2 separate regions of the Homo sapiens genome follow, and region 1 is linked to region 2. The links come from fine-mapping of genetic effects on gene expression. A gene starts in region 2. The other region holds a variant in brackets. All regions are shown on one strand. Distances are from middle to middle.

Evidence for each region. PIP is the estimated chance that this variant, and not a neighbour inherited with it, causes the effect.
Region 1: its variant is fine-mapped to the expression of ZMAT2 in whole blood (INTERVAL, PIP 0.99).

The regions. Positions count from the first base shown.
Region 1 is chr5:140,656,119-140,658,969 of GRCh38, forward strand. It overlaps IK (IK cytokine), which reads left to right. Exons shown (of 20, transcript NM_006083.4): 10 at 1,436-1,544; 11 at 2,619-2,658; 12 at 2,821-2,851. Among named protein-coding and RNA genes, the nearest start is that of WDR55, 7.4 kb to the right of the region's middle. The variant G/T (reference allele first, on the strand shown) is at 1,757.
Region 2 is chr5:140,699,072-140,701,988 of GRCh38, forward strand. It overlaps ZMAT2 (zinc finger matrin-type 2), which reads left to right and starts at 1,376. Exons shown (of 6, transcript NM_144723.3): 1 at 1,376-1,407; 2 at 1,748-1,841. The coding sequence starts at 1,390. HARS2 (histidyl-tRNA synthetase 2, mitochondrial) reads left to right here. Exons shown (of 13, transcript NM_012208.4): 13 at 1-234. RefSeq lists an enhancer at 1,635-1,704.

The DNA.
Region 1 (2,851 bases), 43 kb before region 2:
ACTGAATCCATTCACTTTTCCACTTTTTCACCAATAACATTCCAGTCTAAGCTATAATCATTTGCTGGAACTATTAACTTACTATTTTTTTAGAGACCAAGTCTCACTCTGTCACCCAGGATGGAGTGCAGTGGTGCTATCTTGGCTCACTGCAAACTCCGCCTCCCAGGTTCAAACGATTCTCCTGCCGCAGCCTTCCAAGTAGCTGGGACTACAGGCATTCATCACCACACCTGGTTAATTTTTTTATTTTTAGTAGAGATTGGGTTTTACCACGTTGGCTAGGCTATTCCTGACCTCAAGTGATCCATCCGCCTTGGCCTCCCAAAGTACTGGGATTACAGGCATGAGCCACTGCGCCAGTCCTCTGGAGCTATTAAAAAGGCTTCTAATTGGTTTCCGCACTTCCACTCTGGTTTCCGCACTTCCACTCTGATTTGTTATTATATCTTGTTATTGAGGTGTTATTCACATGCCATATAATTCATCCTTTAAAGAGAATTTTTTTAAAAATTTTTGTGGATATATAGTAGGTATATATATTTATGAGGTACATGAGATGTTTTGATACAGGCATATAATGCATAATAATCACATCATGGAAAATGGGGTATCCATCCCGTTAAACATTTATCTTTTGTGTTACAAACAATCCATTTATACTCTTTTAGTTGTTTTAGAATGTATAAATTATTACTGCCTATAGTCACCCTGTTGTGCTATCATGTAGTAGGCCTTATTCATTCTTTCTATTTTTTTGGTACCTATTAACCACCCCTACCTCCCCTACCCTTCTAAAATATACAGTTTGGCTGGGTGCAGTGGCTCACACCTGTAATCCCAGCACTTTGGGAGGCTGAGGTGTGAGGATCACTTGAGGTTAGGAGTTCAATACCAGGTGGGCCAACATTGTAAAACCTGATCTCTACTAAAAATTAGCCAGGCGTGGCGGCATGTGCCCGTAATCCCAGTTACTCGGAAGGCTGAGGCATGAGAATTGCTTGAACCCAGAAGGTGGAGGTTGCAGTGAGCCAAGATCGTGCCACTGCATTCTAGCCTGGGCGACAGAATGAGACTCTGTCTCCAAATAAATAAATAAAATGTAAATTTTTGTCTCACTACAGTTTAGAAGCTTTTAGTAGTATCTCATTCTTAGGATAAAGAGCAAAATCTTTACCATGACTTTGAGCCTCTGCAACATCTGGCCTTTCTAGAATGTTCTAGACTCCTGACTTTCTTGAATGGTCTTGATTCATTTTGATGCAGGGCTTTTGTGCAGGCTGTTTTATCTCTGGAATATCCTTTCACAGCACTTCGTTTCCCTCCCTTCACCTACTGTATTGTAATTCAGTCTTTAGTTTGTTAAGTGAATGAATGAATAAATGAAGAGATTTCTGCTGAGTGGTTTAACATTCTTGTTTCTTGGTATTTTCAGGCCCAGACCACACTGACCACAAATGACATTGTCATTAGCAAGCTGACCCAGATCCTTTCATACCTGAGGCAGGGAACCCGTAACAAGAAGCTTAAGAAGAAGGATAAAGGTACCTGGAGGGTTAGAGAGAGAAGCCTTACCCACAGAGGACGTTTGGGGATAAAACCAAGGTCTCCTGGAGCTTTCTGTCTCCAGAATATTGAGAGGCTCCTGGGAAGCAGAGAAAAATGGGAGTACTGGAGCATTGGCAAGGAGACAGTTACAGCCAGATTCTGTCTCCTTAACCTACCTAAGAAGCAGTGGTCAGGTCTGAAGCATGAG[G/T]GATGGAGAGTGGGTAGCTTATGTCCTATTTATTTATTTTTTTTAAAAGAGATTTTTTGGTGAAAACCAGAAAACCTAGACAGATTCTAAAAAGGCTCTAATACTTGACCGACATTTTATTTTATTTTATTTATTTATTTTTTGAGACGGAGTCTCGCTCTGTCACCCAGGCTGGAGTACAGTGGTGCGATGTCTGCTCACTGCAACCTCTGCCTCCCGGGGTCAAGCGATTCTTCTGCCTCAGCCTCCCAAGTAGGCACTATAGGCACTATAGGCACGCATCACCACGCCTGGCTAATTTTTGTATTTTCAGTAGAGATGGGGTTTCACTGTATTGGCCTGGCTGGCCTCGAACTCCTGACCTTATGATGTGCCCACCTCGGCCTCCCAAAGTGCTGGGATTACAGGCATGAGCCACTCTTCCTGGCCTTATTTTATTATTTTTATTTATTTATTTATTTTGAGACGAGTCTCGTTTTGTCGCCCAGGCTGGAGTGCAGTGATGCCATCTCGGCTCACTGCAACCTCTGCCTCCTGGGTTTAAGCAATTCTCTTGCCTCAGCCTCCTGAGTAGCTGGGATTACAGGCACCTGCCATCACACCCGGCTAATTTTTTTGTACTTTTAGTAGAGATGGGGTTTCACCATGTTAGCCAGGCTGGTCTCAAACTCCTGACCTCAAGTGATCCGCCCGCCTTGGCCTCCCGAAGTGCTGGGATTACAGGCGTGAGCCACCGCACCCAGCCTTGACCCACGTTTTAAACAGAAGATGTTTAAAAGGGCATTAAGAGCTGGAGAGGATGGTGAAGTTCAGTGGAAATTAACTGAGGAGTATGTTCCTGACTCCTCTCTTTAAATTTCAGGGAAGCTGGAAGAGAAGAAACCTCCTGAGGCTGACATGAAGTATGTATCCTAGCCCCTGGCATCTGATCAGAGGGAGGGGGTCTGTACATTTCTTGTGTCTGGCATTTTGGGGAGGTGCTGACATGAGAATCTGGAGAAATGGTCAGGGGGAGTGAAGGTGTATGTGTGAATTTGGCCAGCTAGTGATCTCCATTTTCCCAGTATTTTTGAAGACATTGGGGATTACGTACCC
Region 2 (2,917 bases):
CATGTTGATTTGACATCTCTCTAGCCCATCCATTGCTTACAGTAGAAGAGTGGGGCTGTATGCTTGATAATCTTGAACATTGAACTTAATAGATGACTTGACAAGGTAGAGATCTGATATTTTGAGATTTTGGAGACCATTTCCTGTGCCAGAATCACTGCTCTATTCCATACCGTGCCATGGAGGCTGTTTTAGAAGTGGTTGGATAACATGTTAAATAAAATATTAAGTGTAGTAGTTTGGGTAATTTGTTATTGTTATCAAGGGCTTTGTTTGCATAGACCATAGAAAATGCTTGAGTGTACATTGGAGAATTCTGTGAGGTAGAAGTAACCTCCCTGGGATGATGCTTCTGTATTCAGTGATGAGCAGCCACAGTTTCTCCCTCTTTCCCTGTCTCCTCAAGAGGTAGTTTTTTTGTTTGTTTGTTTTTAGACGGAGTCTTGCTCTGTCACCCAGGCTAGAGTGCAGTGGCGTGATCTCGGCTCACTGCAACCTCCGCCTCTCAGGTTCAAGAGATTCTCCTGCTTCAGCCTCCCGAGTAGCCAGCTAATTTTTGTATTTTTAGTAGAGACAGGGTTTCACCATCTTGGCCAGGCTGGTCTCAAACTCCTGACCTCATAATCCACCCACCTCAGCCTCCCAAAGTGCTGGGATTACAGGCATGAGCCACTGTGCCCGGCCAAGAGGTAGTTTTGTTGCTAAAAATCAACATATAGTGAGCCGGTATGCCACAGTGCTTCACTCTAGAGTGTTGTTGATGACTGGCCTTTCCAAATCCAATTATGCTGATTAAATTATGTTCTACTATAAAGTTCCCCAGATGATGGAAAAATAAGTGAACCAAAGGGTGGTAGCATTGCTTCAAGGAAAAGAGCCCAAGTGCAAAACATGCTTTTTATATGTGCGTCGGGAAGGGTGCCTCTGTTGCAAACGTTTCAGTGTAGTTTAGGGTCATATCCCTAGTGCATGCAGGTGAATGAGAGGCATCTAGACCCCCTAATGGCGCTTCGGCCTTAAAAAAGGTTTAGAAATTCTTGGCAGTGGACGCAAAGTTGCTAGACTAGATCAGAGACCACTGTTTTGCGAACCTCAGTTTCCTTGTTTGTAAAATAGTTGAACTAAATCTTGACCCTTTAATGCTTGTTTTGAAATCCAAGGCAAAAAACAATTGCAAGCGCCCTTACTTCCGTGTTGCTTCATACTCCTCTTGCGCCTGCGCTGTCTCCTTGGAGCAGAGGCGGGGCCAACAAGCCTGTTTTAGAAACCCTCCAGTCCTTAGCTCGTTTAGAACACAAGACTCCAAGCTTATTGGAGGGCTATCTTGCCTTACGGCTCCAAGCCGCTTTTTACGGCGTTTTTCAGCTCGCCATTCACTTCGCTGTGAAGATGGCGTCGGGCAGCGGGGTAGGTGTTGTGTCTGAGGAGGAGGTTTTGCGGGGTGGGGAATGGTTTTTCAGACCTGAATAGAGACAAACTCCTGCACCCGACTGGCTTCCCGATATCTCCTCGAGATCCCAGGGTTCAGGTTCAAGAACTCCCCAGTAATAGGCCTTGGCAGAGGGTCAGTAGAATCGCGGAGGTTTCTCGGGTTGGGGTCTTGAGGCTACCTCAGTCTTCTCGTACAGTCCAAAGAGGCTTTGCTTTCAAAACGTCCTGTAGACACCTGGACCGCGAGGGCGCGGTTCCCTGCTTCTCTAGGGGCCCAGACACGGCGACGGATCTTGACGCTTTTTCCTCCCCACAGACAAAAAACTTGGACTTTCGCCGAAAGTGGGACAAAGATGAATATGAGAAACTCGCCGAGAAGAGGCTCACGGAAGAGAGAGAAAAGAAAGATGGTGGGTGCTAACTACATCAAGGGCTAAGGGTATCACAGAGGCGATGCGATGATGGAGAGCGGGTGGGAGTTGAAGTGCGCTGCCTTCCCACGCGGTGTAAGCTCTGGCAGAGTGCTGCTTCCCTGGGCCTAGGTTTCTGCATTTACAAAATGAGAGCGAGGAGGTGGGATGAAGTAAGTAGTTTTGAGATGCTCTTCAGCTCTATTTCACTCTGCTTCCTTGCCCACCCTTTGCTTGGCTCGTTTAATGCTTTCCTGAAGTACAGAGAAGATAACGGCATCCTTAGTAGTGACAGAGAAGTTAAGTAGAGTATTTTGCTGCTGTGCATTACCGCTATCAGTGACCCCCCTCTTTCCCTTGAAATTTCTTAAGGGAGAGAACATTCCTGGCCCAATCAAGACCCTCCCATATAGTCTGAGAAAAGCCGGGGAACTTTGCAGGATCTGTGATTGTTTCAGCTAGAGCTTAGTAGTGCTGTTTCTCTGTGCCTTGTACATCAGGGAGTTGGTGCTTCTCTCCTGTTTAAGAGATTGCATAAAGAAATGTTTTATTTTGTCATCTGTTTCAAACGTGTACATTCTTCTTTCCCTTTACCTCCAGGCCACCTTGCACTCACTAACTCTTTCATTTTTTATGTAACATGTAAAATAAATAGTGCTTGACATGTAACAGGCATTTCCTAGATGTTGGTCCCCTTTTATAAATTTGCCCAGCTCTCAGAAGGTTCCTTTCCGTTATGCCTAGGGTATCTGCCTGAAAGCATTCTTGAATGTCCTTGCTCCCGTTTTGAAAAAGTTGCTTCTAGTAATTCTTCAGAAATTCTCCCCCACAATTCAGTTAATCAATGAATATAAAACATACTGTTTTTAGATTTGCTGGCTTTAAAGTGGAGAAAAGCTGTAGAGTTGAGGATTGCTTATGATTTCTTCCTGTGTTGAGATTCTCCCCAGCTGCTACTTTAAGTGTCTGTTGTGTCCTTTCAGGAATGATTTTGAAATGAGTAAGACCTGAATTTTGGATTTCATGCATTTTTTTTCCTTTCTGGTTGAGGAACTATAATATTGAAGGGACTTCCT